3 linked regions of the Homo sapiens genome follow. The protein of the gene in region 3 interacts with the protein of the main gene of each other region in a pairwise test. Each region holds a gene or a part of one and is shown on either strand. Other genes may lie near its edges.

Region 1 (7,037 bases), on a different chromosome or scaffold from region 3:
GAGTTATTATTTAATAAGTATAGAGGTAGAGTTTGAATTTTTCAAAATAAAAAAGTTCTGGTAGTTGGTTGCCTAACAATGTGAATATATTGCATCCTACGATTTCCTACATAGTGACAAAGTAGATAATACATGATCAAACTATAGATGATTATGAAACAACGACAATATAATTTCTTACTATTTTGTTTCACCATGTGGACATTTAAAAATTTCATTCATAAAATAACATGATGTCCTTCATATTCAAAGATGTAATTCTCCATCTCCCTTCACTACCTAGTTCCTTTCCCCAGAATTAATCACTGTTGCTGTTTCCTATGCATCCTTGCAGAGGTATTCAGTGCATATGTACCTTAAGTGGAAGCTTATGCCCTTTAATCTGTTTTTAACATAAATGACAGCATGCCACACACAGAGCACTACATATTCCTTTCCCACGTAACTGTATATACTGGAATTCACTCCATTTGAGCTTGTGACAAATATTTTGAGTTGTTTTCCTGCAATAGGACAGACTGGCCTCATAGACTGCATTCTATTTACAGATTCCTCTTATGATCCACATCATACATGGTTGGCTACACTGAGGCCTAAGAAGTAAAATTTCTTGCTTTTTAAAATTAAATTGCCTCTTCAGGGGCCAAGTGACTATAAATTGACCTAGCTGAGTTGGAAAAAAAAAATTACCTTGAAAGTAGCAAAGGCATCTGAAGCAATATCAAATGTTGACAACTCCACGTACTTAAAGAAATCTCTGAATTGATTAGAAAAGAGGATGATTTTGGCAAGTGGTTCATGTCGAATACATTCTCTCAGCATAATCCCACAACGTAAGGCAATCTGTGGGGCTTCATATCTAAAGCGTAAACAAGAGAGAAATAGAGAACTCTGTTATCCTATTAAAATAATATTAATGGCATCAAAAGAACCATTTCAATACTGCTATTAATGGAAGCATACATACCATTTGTCACGATTCATTCAATATCCACTGAAGATCTACTATGTGCCTGGCACTATTGCAGACGTATTCTGGAATTTGAGTGTATTCTGAAACACTTAGATATACTCAAATATGAACATGGTGACAGCTGGGGGTGGGGGGATGAGGCAGAATGTAAACAATGAAAAGATAATTTCATACACTGAGAAGGGCTGTAAAAACTGTTGACAATAAAATACGCCACATTATAAAGGTGACTAAATTGTGTGTGTGTGTGTGTGTGTGTGTGTGTGTGTGTGAGTGACTACTTAAGTTACTTTACTTTAGACTCAAGGAAAAGGCAAAATGTTCCAGGCAAAGGGAAAAAACTGTTCAAAGGCTCCATGGCAAGAACAGGCTTGGCGAAACAGAGAAGGAGGAATAAAGCCTGTGTGATTCGATTGTAGAGGAAGAACCGTGAGTGGTGTGAAATGAGGCAGGGGTGGAGAGAAGGGCAGGGGCCAGATCCCAGATCAGATACAGCTTTGTCAGCCAAGGTAAGCAGTTGGTTTTATTTTAAGTGTAATGGGAAGCCTTTGGAGAGTTTAAAGCAAGAAATTGACAAGACTAACTTATGCTTTAAAAAGATCACTCTGGCTTCTTGTTGAGAATGTCTGTAAAACAGCAGGAGACATATAAGAACAGGAGCAGAACCCAGGAGAGGGAACGGGGGCTTGGCCTGGGGTGGCAGGAGCAGAACAGAGGACTGTGGGCAGGTGGTGGATACTGTTCGGAGGAAGAGTCAACAAGACTTGCTGATGATGTAGCTGGAGTTGGGTGAGGGAATAAATTTGGAAACTGAGAATTCACGAATGATTCCTATGTTTTTGGCTTGAATCACTGGGTAGATGGTGGTGCTATTTATTAAGATGAATAAACTAGTAGAGGAACAAGTTAGTAAAGAAATTAAGAGTTTGTGGTTGACCACATTAGTTTTGAGATGGCTGATATCTAAGTAGAAAGGTCTCCTTGGCAGTATGATACACTTATCTGGACTTTAGGAAAAAGATAGGAGAGACCTATATAAATATATGATTTGCATGCAGTAGGTGGCTAATACATAGCTGTGGACTGATTGACTCACTTAAATCCTAAGTGGAATCATGGCTCACAGCAAAAAATATGCTAGACAAACGAAACGTCTACTGTGGGAAACAATTCAGGACTGGCATACCAGATTGGTTCCATTTCTAATACAACAACAATCTCTCAAAGTCAAATTCAGTCTCTAAGTAAGTTTAAGATATATTCCAGTGTGTGATAAGATTTCAAGAAAATGAATAATGCTTAGCCCAAGTACAACAAGCCCTGTATTGAAATAATACAGTTGACAATTGTGTGGTAAATATAGGAAGAATAGAACAAAGAAAGATATAGTTGTGATACACTGGGAAGTGAGCAGAATATAGGGCCCCCTCCAAAAAAAAAAATCTGGTGGGGCGTGACTGCTCACTCCTGTACTCCCAGCACTTTGGGAGGCTGAGGTGGATGGACTGCTTATGCTCAGGAGTTCGAGACCAGCCTGGGCAACATGGCTGACTTTACAAAAAATAAAAAAATAAAAAATTTAGCTGAGACCCTGACTTTACAAAAACTAAAAAAATTAGCTGGACATGGTGGCACACGCCTGTAGTCCCAGCTACTCAGGAGGCTGAGGTGGGAGATTGCTTGACCCTGGAAAGTTAAGCGAGACTCTGTCTCCAAAAATAAAAATAAAATAAAATAAAATCTGACCATATTTTTAAAGAGATATCATTGACCATTTCAACTGAATACTAGTTTTTATGGAACTTTTATGATACTATAAAACTTTAAGATATTTTATTACTCATCAACTACTAGTAACAACATTTGTTGAACAATAAGTAATGTACTACTCTTTATAAGATTATAGAATTTTCATGAAAGACAGATTCAAGAATAAAGATTCAATTGAGGAAATAGACTACTTTCCAATATCAAATTTACAAATATTAGTAGAAGAAACAGCAAACAAAGATACCAGGGTGGTATTTATTCATTTTTGTCCTGTTTATGCAGAATGATATTCACAAATATTGAGTATTCCCTGAATAACTCATAGTAACATTAAATGCTGATACATTCAGATAGTCATGATTCTTTGTAGAATATAAGGAATGCCAATTTATAGTGCTAGCAATTTCTCTTATTAGAAAAACCTGAAACTCAGCCTATTGGCTCACAAGGAACAGTTGTCAGGTGGGGTTTTATTAAAGATGTTGTAAAGAGGGGTATATGTTCTGAAATGTAAAGGAGAAAAGCACTGTCATTTATTGATAGAGTACTCAAGAGAGTATAAAATAAAGGCTGTTGGCCTAGAGAAAGAATCTAAGGGAAGGACAATTAAAATCCAGACTTATTGATCAGCAAGATATATGTGGATTTTTGTAATTTGGCCCTAACCTTAACTTTTCAGTTTCATCTCCCATCACATTCGTTATTTCCCTGGAGCCCCTCATTCCCTCAATTGGAATGCCCTTCTTACATTCCCACAACTCAGATGCTTCTCATCTCTCAAGGCTTAGTTCAAATGCCATCTCCTCCTTGAAGCCTTTCCTAATCACTACAATTCAGGATTATTCTTTCTGCCCTTCACACTCAAATAACAGCTTGTCTGTAATTTCTCTTTAACACTTTTTTCATTCTGTATTATGTTATACTGCAGTAAATTGCTATAGGTCTATTTTCTTCATTACAATCAATTTAATTGTTGGGGATATGTTTTACTTATCCTGTTACCTTCTCCTCTCCTCCCCTATCCCCATCTCCATTTGGTGTCTATGTCATTTATTGCTACTTTCTCCTGTCCCTACCCCAGTCTCCGAAGAGTGCCTATTATAATGTTTTTCACGAAGCATGCATATAATGAATTTAATGAACCTCAAACTGAAGAAATGTCTTAATACTAGAGTACTCTAATGAGAGTCAAACTCTGACGTATACAAAATATGCATCATCTCTGGCCAACATTTTCTCATTTCTTAATTCAATTTCCAAACTAAGACCATCTATAAAAAGTTTCCACTCTAACTTTTGGGTATAATTAGTTCTCTTTTTCCTTTCATTTCGTGAAGCTTATTGAAACCATCTGTGATGCACTGACAGTTTATTCTTGAGAATCAAAAGAATGTTTTTAAAAAACCAAGACTCCTCTGGGTCAGCACACTTGTCATTTCATCCCAGCAGTTTGACATCTGTCATTCTGAGATTACAACTTCTTAAATTCAGAAATACATAGGGATATACAGAGATATATAGGGAATTCTAATTCTCCTCAGTACTCTTTAAGTGATTTATAATTCACATAGATCATTTCTACCTGACTACCCTCTAGTATATTGACTTTTGATAGGTTATTGCTTACTATTTAAAGAAGTGCTCCAAAAGATAAGCTTAGGTTAAGTTTCAAATCCCACTAACATTAATATCCTTAGGTCTGTTAAAGAATCAATATGTATCCCACCTAATCTATTCTACTCATAGATAAGCTTCCTGATGGCAAGGATCCTGCCTAATTACTGCATTTTCCACAATGGCTAACCCATGGCAGGTCCCCAGTAAAGGTTAATCTGATGAATGCTGAATCACTATTTTATAGAACTGAATCTTATCTTCCCTCTTGATTTGTAATTTAGATCATATAGTCTGGACTATAATGAACTGTGTCAGTGTGGAGAAGGCACTATCTAGGCATGCCCATCAAATAATGACAGCATAATGAAAAGTCTCTCTCAAATTTAATGAAAGCCAAAATGTAAGAGCAATGGTCTCAGCTGGCAGTGAGCTACAGTAATCATTACACAGAAAATGGTCAGAAGAATGATCTTGTGCAAGAATATTTCAATTTAAGAACAAAGATTACATTATGTAAGGGGGAAAATGACTTTTGTGATTATTGCTGGAAGTAAACAAGGCCAGGAAATACCTGGAAAGCTTTTGTAAAATGCCATTCAACAAACACTTGGCCTCCTCAATATAGTCAAGAACGTATGTTTCTAATCTAGAAACATTTGCTGACTAAAAATAATGAGTTAGGCCAGGCATAGTGGCTCATGCATATAATCCCAGCACTTTGGGAGGCCAAGGCAGGAGGATTGCTTGAGCCCAGGAGTTTGAAACCAGCCTGGGCAACATAGTGGGACCCTGTTTCTACAAAAAAAAAAAAAAAATTAATTAGCTAAGTGTGGTGGCATGCACTTGTAGTCCCGGCTATTTGGGAGGCTGAGTCAGGAGGATCACTTGAGCCTAGGAGGTTGAGACTATAGTGAGCTGTGATCACAGCACTACCTTCTAGTATGGGCAACAAAGCAAGACCCTGTCTCGATAAATAAATAAAATAATGAGTTAGTTCTGTCCACCAAAAAGGCCTAGAAGCAATAACAATCCAATGTCAATGAGCACCCCTAGCAACCAGATTGTAGTCTCTAAGAACCATTTCTCTCTAAAAAGAACCAACATCCTTGGTAGAAATTTCAGGTCTTTGTCAGCAAATGTACAAGTTGGGTGGCATATCTCGTTACACCAGAAAGCAAAGAAGCTCTCAGAAACTATTTTAGTGATGTTAAGAGATATCACCTAGAAGGGGCCACAGATGGCCAATTGAGCATTAAAAAAACATGTGTAGAACTAAATAAGACATATAGAAAACATTAAATCCATTAGTTCATCAGATACTAGAAGAGTGTGTGTCTCTGTACATATATAAATATATATATATATTTATACACACACACATATATAAAGGCAGGGGGAGGGAGGGAAATAACTCATTAGACACCGATGAAAGTTCCTAGGATATCTTATTTTTCTCTAAAATGATAATTAAAAGAAAAGAATTGAGCATTTATTCTGCCTCTCTGGTATGAATTATACTTCAGAGTATTCTAACACCTGAAGCTGTGGTGGGTGAATGACAGTATTCTCTATAAAACTACTTTAGCCAATAAAAAATACAAAAGGAATGACAGAATTCAAAATTACCTTTTTGTCACCTCTAGCAAAATGACGGAATCAGGCAATGTTCATCAATGGATGGTAAAACAATTAAGTTTAAGGTTGATGGGAAACTTTATAGTGGATTAGACTGTCACCAACTGAACCCATTGCTCAGTCTTAGCATTACTAAAAGTACATCTCCTAATGTGATGAAATATGAACTACATAGCACCATCTACAAAATAACTGCCAAAATGAAACTGCTTAAAATTTTTTATAATAAACTTAAAAAAACAGGATAATTGGGAGAAATTTATGATTTTAACATCAGCCTTCTGGAACATAGTCCACTGGCCACAGTTCTTTATGGATCACTGAGAGCTGTTCAGTGACCTCATTCTCAAGTTCTCTCAGTACCCTGGAATGTCATTTGCCTGAGCCAGAAGACAAATTCATTTAGAGTGAGTAAGTCCTTATTTATAATCTTTTCATAGAACTTGGGCTCCAAATACATTTTACCATGTTTAATACCACATATCCAGATAATTCTCTTTGATACACAAGTATCAATTGCTTTTTGTCTTATATTCTTTATGGTTAGACTTAGGTTCTATACAGAATGTTACTATCATACTCTCATTTATATTATTGTTTGATGTGTAAATGTACCAATCAAGTTATGCCCTAGGTTTTAAAGTGACTTCACAAGGATAATTCGGTAAAAATCCTGACTTTTAAGAAGGGCTAAATCTCTAGCATTCAGTGCTAAATTAGAAAATGGTAACAGGGGCTGGGTGCGGTAGCTCATGCCTGTAATTCCAGCATTTTGGGAGGCCGAGGCAGGCAGATCACAAGACCATCTGGCTAACATGGTGAAACCTCGTCTCTACTAAAAATAGAAAAAATTAGTGAGGCGTGGTGGCATGGGCCTGTAGTCCCAGCTACTCAGGAGGCTGAGGCAGGAGAATCGCTTGAACCTGGGAGGGAGAGGTTGCAGTGAGCCGAGATCACGCCACTGCACTCCAGCCTGGGCGACAGAGCGAGACTCCATCTCAAAAAAAAAAAAAAAGAAAATGGTAACAGGTAAAACTGATTA
Region 2 (3,981 bases), on a different chromosome or scaffold from region 3:
TCCAAGACAATATCAGGTAAGCATGGATTTTTAAAGGAATAAAACTAGTTACTTGTAATATTTAGGTTCTTGAACTATGTGATTCTTTAAAGTATCAGGATATTTTTCTCAATATCAAATAATGCATTAATTCAATAAATATTTATTAATTACCATGTACCAGGCATTTTGTAAGTGACAGAGATATATAAGTTAAAAAAAATAAAGTATTGGAATCACAGATCTGAAAGTCTCCATTAAAAAAGAGAGTGTTCATTGAAAAGGCAAACCTTACAAAAAACATAAAGACGACAGTAAAATTCATGTCAGATTCCACCAGTGAGAAACAAAGTCTGCTTGCTTTTGGTGAAAATTCTGCCAGATGATTATATGCCTATATGTGCATAATTTTACATATATTTTAATATTATTATAAAATGCATATATAATACTATATAAATCAGCTAATACTTATATAATGAGTAATAGTTTTTAGCTTGTGATTTTCTCTCCACAAAATATATATTCCTATTAATTTCAGTGAATGTATCATATTCCTTCATACAAATATATAATTTACTAAAAATAATTCCTTACTGATGAACATTTAAAGTTTCATTTTTGTCTATTATATAACTAGTTCTATGAACATACTTGTTAATGTACTAAATCATATCTTTAGAATAGATTCTTGAAGGTAGAGTTTTACTATCTACCATTTAACCTTGGCTTAGGTGTAAAATTTTATTTAGTTCTATATCCATCAAGACTTTCTGAGCACCCACTAAGACTCCTTCTTTTTATGAAAAATATATAATAAAAGCAATGTTTGCATGATAGAAGCCCAGGTACTTGAAAAATATATTACATTGAAACTAGCATTCCTAAATTAATAGAAAGTTTAAAATAAAAATTGGTTCCATTTTTTGGTGGGTCAGACGTGGGGCTTAAATGAGCAGACATTAGCTTAATTTCCCATTTCCACGAGCAGTAGTGTACATCTTTTACCTACCCCACTGAAAGACTGTCTTACTCTAATACTTTTCAAATAAAATACAAGCAATGGACATAAAGGATTTCATACTTGCTCTAAACATTCTTTTCTAAGAACTCACTTTTGAGTCATTAGCCTAGGTGATGTGAAAACTGCTTTAAAAAGGAAAGCAAAATGTAGAGATCGCCTGCATCCTGGCTGAATCATCTTAGTCCTTGACAGCCATCACTTCCAAAGGGCTCACTACAGGGAGGAAGACTCTGAAACTTGTTCCAAATGAGAGATTTGTCATGAACCTGAAACTGACATAGATTTCTCCTTTCTCTGTTTTCTAGAAAATAATGAAAAGGCTCATTAAAAGATATGTACTGCAGGCCCAGATAGATAAGGAGAGTGATGAAGTGAACGAAGGTGAGTTGAACGCAGAAGCAAATCAGCCCCTGAATGTGAGTCAGGACGGGGGCCTAGCGCAGAGTGCCTGGAGAGCTGCAGAGATGCGTACAGGGAGAGTGAACTTCAAGGGGAAAAGTAGAACAGGATCTCACCAACCGCCGTTCTGTTAAAGAGTGGGGAACAGGCTATGTCTCCACAGGCGGGGACAGGTGCCACTTGCTAGATAAAAAGCTCTCATTCTTATGGTGGACTTGGAGGGAGGAGGAAGTGGGTGGGAAAGGCAAGGAAGGGGCTGCTGCCTCAACCCCTGAATCATTCACCACCTTTTTGTTTTAACTTACTTTAGGAGGGCTTTTGTTATCATTCTGCTATAATCTCTTCATTCACAAAAACACTTAGCTAAGAAAACAAAAACCTGCTCAATTAGGAAGTTATTTCCTTTCAAAGGATTCAAAATAAAATTGTGTGTGAAATTAGAGCTGATTTCCTCCTGTCCCACAGTCACTAGTTTTTCCGCATTGCGTATTTATAGTTGACTTCTTATCACTCTTGCTTTCAAAGGGGAACTGAAGGAAATTAAGCAGGACATCTCAAGTCTCCGCTATGAACTCCTTGAAGAAAAATCTCAGAATACAGAAGACCTAGCAGAACTTATTAGAGAACTTGGAGAGAAATTATCCATGGAACCAAATCAAGAGGAAACCAATAGATAATGCGAAGACTTCCTTAGAAATTCATATTTATTTGTCCACTTGAAGCCATATTATTTTCTGATTTATTTTCTTAAGTGCCAATGGGCCCACCTTTTAAACAAGAAAACGTTAAATAACTTGGGCCATCCTATCATCTGGAGCCCTAGTATCTAATTTTTTTGGTGATTAAACTCCATTGTTCAGGGTAAAGGCTGTAGATAATGAGGAAAATTATGCCCAGTTGTTTGGTGCTTGTTTTATAAACTGCTTTCTTGGATATAACTAACTCTTGTGATGATGTCATTGCCATGTAGTGTCTGCCTGAAAATGGGTCCCAGCGGACAGGGGCTGACCCACGTTACTCCCCATGCGGTTTTTCCTCTGAAGTTTATTTCAGGTTCCTTCTTGCCTGCTCTGTGGATCCCCTGCTGGGGACTCCCAGCTCTGAAATTTGGGAAAAAGTAGCCCATGGGCCTTTAGAATGCTTTAATCCTTTCTTTAGAATGCTGTTTAAACACCATTTACCCTACTTATCCCTCAATGCACATGATTGATACCGTTCATACAAAATGGTCTTACATCTATGTAAAATTTTCTGATTCATCTATTTGAAAACATTACACTTAACAATGAAAAAAGTTTTTCCTCCACTGAACCCTGGAAACATGGTCCAGTTTTGTGTGTGTGCGTGTGTGTAAATGTGTACACACAGACATAAAGTACTTGCCCTAGTTTGTGGCTAATGTGGACACACAAAAGCTCTTTATGTTATAAATTTTTATTGTCACTAAAAAATTTTACTGTCTAAATAAGTACCTTTTATTGGAGAAAAATCAAAACCCCAAACAAACACTGTGGTTGTTTGGTTCCATTATAGCACAATTTTGTGCCATTTCTGGGAGCATTTACAGATGAATCCCCACACTTAGCCATTGAATGTAAAGGGGAAAAATAAGGTGAGAATTTGTAAATACTTATCTGTTATTTTCAATATGTTCTATCCTTCTACCCAAATATATAAAACAGGAATTTGCATTCATGTGCATTTACCAAGAGGTTGTTGTTGTTACTTACTGATCATGTGAAGTGGTGTCTTAAACAACTAAAAGCGATGAAGGTTCATATGTTTACTCAAAGACCATTGGCATTCAGAGGATGCTGGACATTAACTGGAACTGCTACTTCCAATTCAATAATGGGAGATTTCAAATGCAAATCTTTAACTTCATCTTAAAGATGAAATGGTTGCAGAAAATCTGTTTAGCTCCAACTTTGGCTTAATTTAAATCAAAGAACATTTATGTAACCAGATCAGAAAATACAGCTGAAAATTTATATTCAGTGATTTTGTATTTGTGGATACTACTTATGGAAAAGTTACTTGGTGATACATAAAGATCGATTTTCAAATATTTTGTGACAGTATTTGAATCAGCAGTTGTAAAAAATCAACCTCATACTGAATGCACTATCAGCAAATTAAAATAATCTAACATCCACAAAAAAGTGTGTGTTGTGCCATGCGAGAGATGGACCTTCATCCCAAGGATGCTCTATGACAGCACATGGTCTTGACTCCAGAAGACTCAAGAAAAGATATTCAGATTCCTCAGTGTCTTTTAAGTTGGATTGACTTGACAAGATATAAGTTTTGGGAAACTCAACAGGCATGACTGTGGGTTCCTCAGCAAAAGGCACTACCCTCCTGGTGGCTCTTATGGTTCAAACTAATGTCCTGAAGTCAGATTTTCATCAAAGTGCAACTGAATTGACATCTCTTCGAATTTCATCTTCCAACTTAGAATAATTGGCATTTCTTCTAAGTTGGAAGATGAAAAAGGAAATTAAACGCATTTTAAGAAAGCTTTTAAAATTCTGATAAGAGCTTCATTACAGGCACATCGCCAAAAGATGGTCATAAGC
Region 3 (6,998 bases):
CAGTTTGGATTTCAGGGGCAGGGCAATCTCGGGAGTTCAAACCGGTTTCTTACTCCTCCATGGAACTTGGCATCCAGCTGCAGTCTTCAAACTGAACTGAGTGCAGGCACCAGTTCCGGCCTTGGAAGAGCCAAGAGGTGGCGACTCCTAGCTCTCCATCCCAAATTGCTCCTAAAATGTCTTGGCTGCACCCTGTGTTTGGAGAGGAGGCTGCAGGGTTCCAGCCCTCCATCCACTCGCTACTGCACAGCCCCACTGGTCAGAGCCTGAGATGTTAGGTGGGCATGGATGGGGTTATGCACCAGGCTCTTCTCACATCCTGAGCAACTGCCCCTGTGCAGGGGCTTCCTTCCGTCCCTGCCCAGGGCAGGTTTGTGCCCATGATATATAATAATGACTTGTGACCCTAATGTCTCAAAATGGAGGCACTCACTAGGTAGCATTAAGCCCATATTAAGTTTCTTTCTTTAGAAACAATAAACATACGTGTTTCTCACTTTCGCTCATAGTAAAGGGGTTTTTCTTCAAAGTGGTAAGCATGTGTGTGGTAGACTAAGGGGATGAGGGAACACTTGCTGTGGCCCAATGCCACCAGAGACCCCAGTGAATAAGGACCCAGTGGCACGCACACCTGTGGAGGATCGCAAAAGCGACAAGGGACTAGCAATGTCTGAAGCGTTTTCGGAATCTTGGCAGTGAGATTTCTGAAAGCTTATTCCTGACTTTGGCAGCTGGGCAGCCGAGGACGAGGTCCCTGGAGGAACAGATTTCCCTCCACCACCCAGCACTAGAGCGGGACTTCTGGACTCCCTGGAGTGGCTGTCAGTGGGCTGGCCTCCAGAGCCTCCACTGTGGGTCCTTACCCTATCACTCCCTTTAATCATTGTACTGTGAATGTCTGCTCAATTGTGTGTGTGAATCTCTCACAATAAATCCTGAATTTGAGAATCACTCATTGCCTGCTGGGTCACCCTGAAACCTTTTGGGAAAGTGAAAGTTAGCGCACAGGTGCAGGAAACCTGGTTAACATAACAACTAAAATGAACCTGACTGGGTGCAGTGGCTCGTGCCTGTAATCCCAGTACTTTGGGAAGCCAAGGCGGGTGGATCATTTGAGGCCAGGAGTTTGAAACCAGCCTGGCCAATATGGTGAAATGCTGTCTCTACTAAACACATACAAATTAGCCAGGTGTGGTGATGTGTGCCTGTAATCCCAGCTACTCAGGAGACTGAGGCACCAGAATCGCTTGAACCTGGGAGGCGGGGGTTGCAGTGAGCTGAGATGGCGCCACTGCACTCCAGCCTGGGCGACAGAGTGAGACCTTGTCTCAAAAAAAAGAAAGAAAGAAAAGAAAGAACCCAACGGCCCACTTCATTTCTGCCTTACCTTGGAATGGTGGCTGGATGGCGGCGTTCTTCACTCCAGATTTCAGGGAGTGGGAGTCTTCCTGTAGCCTCCGACCCAGAACCGATCTCCTCGCAGTGTGGCCACAGAATTCCTGCAGTGAGGGTAAAGGTGGCATCCAGGGTTGTCAGGGGGTTCTCTCCTTGTGGTGAAGCTTCCTCAGCTCAGACCCCATAGAGGAGCAGGGATGGGAGGTAGGATTCAGCCCCCTTCCTCTCCCAAAACTCCTAATAAGGACCACCTACTGCCTACGTTCTAGGAAATGCCTAAGATGGAAGAGGCTACACTTTCCCAACATAATCCAGTCTAGTTTTTTCTTTTTTTATAAGCTTTTAAGTTCTGGGGTACATGTGCAGAACGTGCAGGTTTGTTACATAGGTATACATGTGCCAATTCAGTCTAGTTTTAAAACTAACTCTTGCAGGACTGACATTCACCTTTTCTTCTGAAAGCGTTTTTCCCCCCAAACCCTGCTGGTATTTAAATTTGTTATGAATAAAAGAGAGAACATCTTGCCCTTTAGACCAAATGCACTGCTACCTACCAAAGCCCCTGAGCTGGGTGAGCAGGTGGGCGGCAAGGGCGCGAGGGAGGCGTGTCCACCGTGACACTGGGATTCCTGGCCGGCAACTGCGGTCCAAGGCTGAAAGATGACACAGCCATTTTAGGAGCCCTTTGGGACTGACACCGGTGGTGGAGGTAGAGGCGCGGTTAGCATCACTGGACTCTACTTCCCAGTAACAAACGTGATTTAAAATTTAACCAAATAACTTGGGCCATCCCAATTGCCCAGCTCGGCAGCACCTGCTGTGAGTGTTGGTGGGATGGGAGCGCAGGTCTCAGCTGTGCCCGGGCTCCTTCTGCCACCCCCGGGACTGTCCTGCCTCCCTTCGTCCACCGCACCCACTCCACGATCCCGGCCAACTACGATGGACCCCGAGGGTGCGTCAGCCCCACGCGCCGGGGAGGCCCCAGGCATGGCATCCACTGGGGCGGTGGGGGGGAACAGCGGGCAGGGGTCTTCCCGCGCATGCCCCATCTCGGCCCAGCTCGGAACCCCCTTTATTCAGCAGGATCGGCGAGAACTCCTTGAACCTTCCCTCCCCAGCGACCTCCGCAGTCTGACTTGGGTTTGCTTTCGCGCGTTCCCAGGAAATAGAAGTCGACGGAAAGCAGTGGTCGGCGTTCGGGTGGGCTCGTGGCCCGCGCAGCCGTGGATCTGAAACTTTCCCGGCGCCCTTCCCCGCTTACTAGAGTCCCTCGGAGACCTCCCCCGAGCCCCGTCCCCCACCCCTTCCCAACCTCTCCTGCAGGAAGGCCGCGGGTTAGGGGGATGTTTCTGATGCGTCATCAGGAGCCTGGGCAGCCTGGTGGGAACCAGAATCAGGCGTGCTCCGAGCCCGCCCATCAGCGCCCTTGCTATGATTATGATTATTATTATTGTTAGTTACTAGCAGCCGAGAAGGTGCCCCCGTCGTGCCCGTGCTCCGGAGCGCTAGTCTCCGCCACGAACGCCGCTCTCCCAATGCCCTTCTCCGCGCTCCTAGCGCGGTTACTGGGCGCTGCCCCCAGAAGCGACACTCACCGGTCCCTGCGCAGTGCTGGAGTGCGGCCTCCGCTCTCGCTTCGCCTCTTTCACCCCGCGCCCAGCCCCGCCCCGCGCCGCGAAGAAATGAAACTCACAGACCCTGTGCTGAGGGCGGCTCCGGGCGCAGAAACGAAACCTAGCTCCTGGCCCCGCACCTGCAGCACTTGCCTCGCGGGAACTCGCGGGAGACGCAGGTTCTCGGGCCCGAACCCAGGCCTGCTGAATCAGATGCTCGTTTCATCAGGCCCGTCTGAGGATCAAGGTGCTCCGGAGGCTCCCTAATGGCCCGGAGTCATCCAAGCCTGCACGTATCCTTGAACCTAGGCATGTCCTTCCCCCCGTCGGTTTTGAAAACAGATGCATTGGTAATTGGGGGTCTTCAGTTCCCTCCCAGGGCTCACTGGGATGATCCCAGCACCAGCAGGGACTCCCAGGCATTGTGTGCCAATGGCTGCAGAGCCCCTCTTGTCCCGAACTCCGTCCAGCACTCCCACCCCTAACCAGGCACACCCATACCATCTTCCTCCTTTCCCGTTTCCCCTTGCCCACTTCTAGGCCTCCCTGGAGTCTGGCTCATCTGGCCTCTCCAGGGTGGAAACGGGTGTGTGGAAGGAAAATAAAATAAAATAAATAAAATAGTAATAATAAAGCTTAAAATAATAAACATAACATAGGTAATAGTTGTCAGGCCAGGCCATCGCATCCCAGGCCAGGCCATCGCATCCCCTGTGACTTGCAGGTATACATCCAGATGGCCTAAAGTAACTGAAGATCCACAAAAGAAGTAAAAACAGCCTTAACTGATGACATTCCACCATTGTGATTTGTTCCTGCCCCACCCTAACTGATCAATGTACTTTGTAATCTTCCCCACCCTTAAGAAGGTTATTTGTAATTCTCCCCACCCTTGAGAATGTACTTTGTGAGATTCACCCCTGCCCACCAGAGAACAACCCCCTTTGACTGTAATTTTCCATTACCTTCCCAAATCCTATAAAACGGCCCCACCCCTATCTCCCTTCGCTGACTCTCTTTTCGGACTCAGCCCGCCTGCACCCAGGTGAAATACACAGCCATGTTGCTCACACAAAGCCTGTTTGGTGGTCTCTTCACATGGACGCACATGAAAACAGTTAACATTTAGTATAAGCTATTTAGAAGTAACACATAGGCTAAAATTTTAAGCAGCCCCTCCCAGCATTGTAACAAGTTGCAGATGCAAGCTTATCTCAAAAGCTTATCACCTGCCTCGGGACCCCAGCCTCCAACCCTAGTCCAGCTTGGAGGATGACTAGTCAATATAACTGAATTGCCAGTTTCCTCAGAATTGTCACGGGTTAAGTAATTTACTGTCTTTGTCTGAAACCTGTATCCTACCTTGTTTTTCCCATCTCAAACGACATATAAGCTAGCTGCTTTCTTTGTTGGGGTTGGCAGCCATTTTGGGCATGAGCCTGCTGTTGGCCCGAATTAAAAGTTCTGTTTTGGTCTCCAAAGGTCTCTTTGTCTTCCTTGGCTAGAGTTTTACTGCAAAGGTGAAAGGGGTTGGGGAGGGCTGAGTCAAGCAGACCCATGGGTGGTCCTCCCTTTGGGAGCTCCCATTCTCGGCTAACTGGCTGTGAGTGGGAGATGGCATTTCCCTTTGGGAGCGGTTGGCACCCCACCTCCATTCTCCTTAGCTCAGCTCACAGTCCCTTACAAGCCCCCGCTAAAGACTTCCATGATTAGGAAGGGTCACCCCCAACCAACCTCAAGGCCCAGAACCTGCCCCAGCTTTAGGTCCTGGGGTCAGGGGAAACCTGGATGGAATCAAATTCAATACTGCTGCACCTACAAGAGGGGGAGGAGCCCCCCAGCCAGCTCCCTGTGCTGAAATCTATTTTGCTTTGCAGGATCCACTCCTAGGGCTGGGCAACCCCATCCAAGGGGTTCTTCATCCAAGGGGTTCATCCAAGGGGAACACAAGTTCTCCCAGGAATTAGCAATGACCTCACTTTAACACACACACACACACACACACACACACACACACACTCAACCCCTCTGGGCCTTTTACTTCCTAGTCAAGAACCCAGGCAACAGCACATCCTGGGGGACTGTGAGCAGGCTGGGCTGATGCTTTCTGAAGCAGGAACAGTGCCTTGGGAACGCAGGGTAGGTGTGAGCAGAGCTGGCACTCATGTGAACAGAGACTTCACTCTGGGTGATGCTGCTGCTGTTTCCAACAGCGGGAGGCTTCCCTAAGGGCCCTTGTTCACGAACAAAATCAGAAAGAGCTGCAGGCAACTGATAACCAGATAGAGGCACAACCTCAGCCAGGGCAGGACTCGGAAGGGCAGTGAGGCGCCCTGCCCAGGAAACACAGCACACACAGCTCACTCCCAGTTGGTGCAATGCCTCCTTAAGTTTTAACGCCCTAGGCACTTCCCTTGTCCACCGCAGTCCTTCCCTGGCCTTAGATTTTGGTGCTTCATTGCCTCTAATATGCATATGATATGGCAGGGCCTTGGGGAGTATAGGTGGTTGTTTTGGGGTGTAATTCAGCAGTCAGTCATACAATAATAGCTCCTGTCTACTGAGCATGTAGGATGTGTTAGGTGTCAGTGAGAGACGGGACGAGCTGGATGTCCCAGGCCGACTAAGAATCCCTAAGCCTAGCTGGGAAGGTGACCACATCCACCTTTAAACACAGGGCTTGCAACTTAGCTCACACCCGACCAATCAGGTAGTAAAGAGAGCTCACTAAAATACTAATTAGGCAAAAACAGGAAGTAAAGAAATAGCCAATCATCTATTGCCTGAGAGCACAGGGGGAGGGACAGTGATTGAGACAGAAACCCAGGCATTCGACCCAGCAATGGCAACCCCCTTTGGGTTCCCTCCCTTTGTATGGGACGTCTGTTTTCACTCTGTTAAATCTTGCAACTGCACACTCTTCTGGTCCGTGTTTGTTATGGCTGGAGCTGAGCTTTCGCTTGCCATCCACCACTGCCATTTGCTGTCTGCTGTTGTTTGCCGCCATCACAGACCCACCACTGATGTCCACCCCTCTGGATCCGGCAGTGTGTCCGCTGTGCTCCTGATCCAGCGAGGCACCCATTGCCGCTCCCATTCGGGCTAAAGGCTCGCCATTGTTCCCGCATGTCTAAGTGCCTGGGTTCGTCCTAATGAGAACACTCACCACATGCCCCAAGATTCCATTCCTTGGAATCTGTGAGGCCAAGAACCCCAGGTCAGAGAACAAGAGGCTTGCCGCCATCTTGGAAGTGGCCCGCCACCCTCTTGGGAGCTCTAAAAACAAGGACCGCTCGGTAACATCAGCTAGAGGGACTCGTGTGCAATCACTCACCTTAACAGCCACCCTCCCAGAGGAGTAGGATTATCACACCATGTTCTCCATGAGAAGACCGAGGCCTAAGGAGCTGGGTTCCATATTGGTAGAGCTATGGTTCCAATCCAGGTGATCATTCTCCAAACCTGCGCTCTTCAGCACCTCCTCGCTATGCTGAAATCAAGAGGCAGCTTCTGTACTTAAGAAGCTCACAACCTCCCACCTGAATTGCAGAGGATGTGTGCTCTATTAAACGAACAGCAGTTACTCTTTTTTTTTTCCTACCAGATAAGTTTCACACTCTTATACTCTGATAATGGCCCTCTCTTCTTCCAGGCAACTTCTGATCCAGTCTCAGTTACCCCATTGCCATCCCTGAACTCAGGACCCAGGTCACACTCAGAGGCTTTGTTGATGCCTGTCCCTCTGCCAGGCTGCCCTCTGTCCACAGGCTCAAAGGGAAATTCATCTCCCCTGCCTGAAGTGAAGGAGTAAGAGAATGGCTACTCCACAGAGCAACCCTGAGGGCTGCTGGTTGCCCATTTTTGTGGTTATTCTTGATGATATGCTAAACACGGGGTGGATTATTCATGCCTCCCCGTTTTAGACATACATGTAGGGTAACTTCCTGACATTGCCATGGCATTTGTAAACTGTCATGCGCTGGTGGGAGT

The links.
Region 1: the proteins of MX1 (region 3) and CAB39L interact in binary tests that used the Homo sapiens proteins (3 or more experiments, as listed by UniProt).
Region 2: the proteins of MX1 (region 3) and TRPC6 interact in binary tests that used the Homo sapiens proteins (3 or more experiments, as listed by UniProt).

What each region holds. Positions count from the first base shown.
Region 1 is NC_000013.11:49,350,054-49,357,090, forward strand, and holds part of CAB39L (calcium-binding protein 39-like), read right to left. Parts: intron 860-7,037; coding exon 691-859; intron 1-690. UniProt on the Homo sapiens protein: Component of a complex that binds and activates STK11/LKB1. In the complex, required to stabilize the interaction between CAB39/MO25 (CAB39/MO25alpha or CAB39L/MO25beta) and STK11/LKB1.
Region 2 is NC_000011.10:101,451,053-101,455,033, reverse strand, and holds the end of TRPC6 (short transient receptor potential channel 6), read left to right. Parts: coding exon 1-16; intron 17-1,308; coding exon 1,309-1,384; intron 1,385-1,927; coding exon 1,928-2,079; 3' UTR 2,080-3,470; downstream 3,471-3,981. UniProt on the Homo sapiens protein: Forms a receptor-activated non-selective calcium permeant cation channel. Probably is operated by a phosphatidylinositol second messenger system activated by receptor tyrosine kinases or G-protein coupled receptors.
Region 3 is NC_000021.9:41,422,256-41,429,253, reverse strand, and holds the start of MX1 (interferon-induced GTP-binding protein Mx1), read right to left. Parts: upstream 3,016-6,998; 5' UTR 2,991-3,015; exon of another isoform or gene 2,708-2,990; intron 2,049-2,707; 5' UTR 1,950-2,048; intron 1,500-1,949; 5' UTR 1,388-1,499; intron 1-1,387.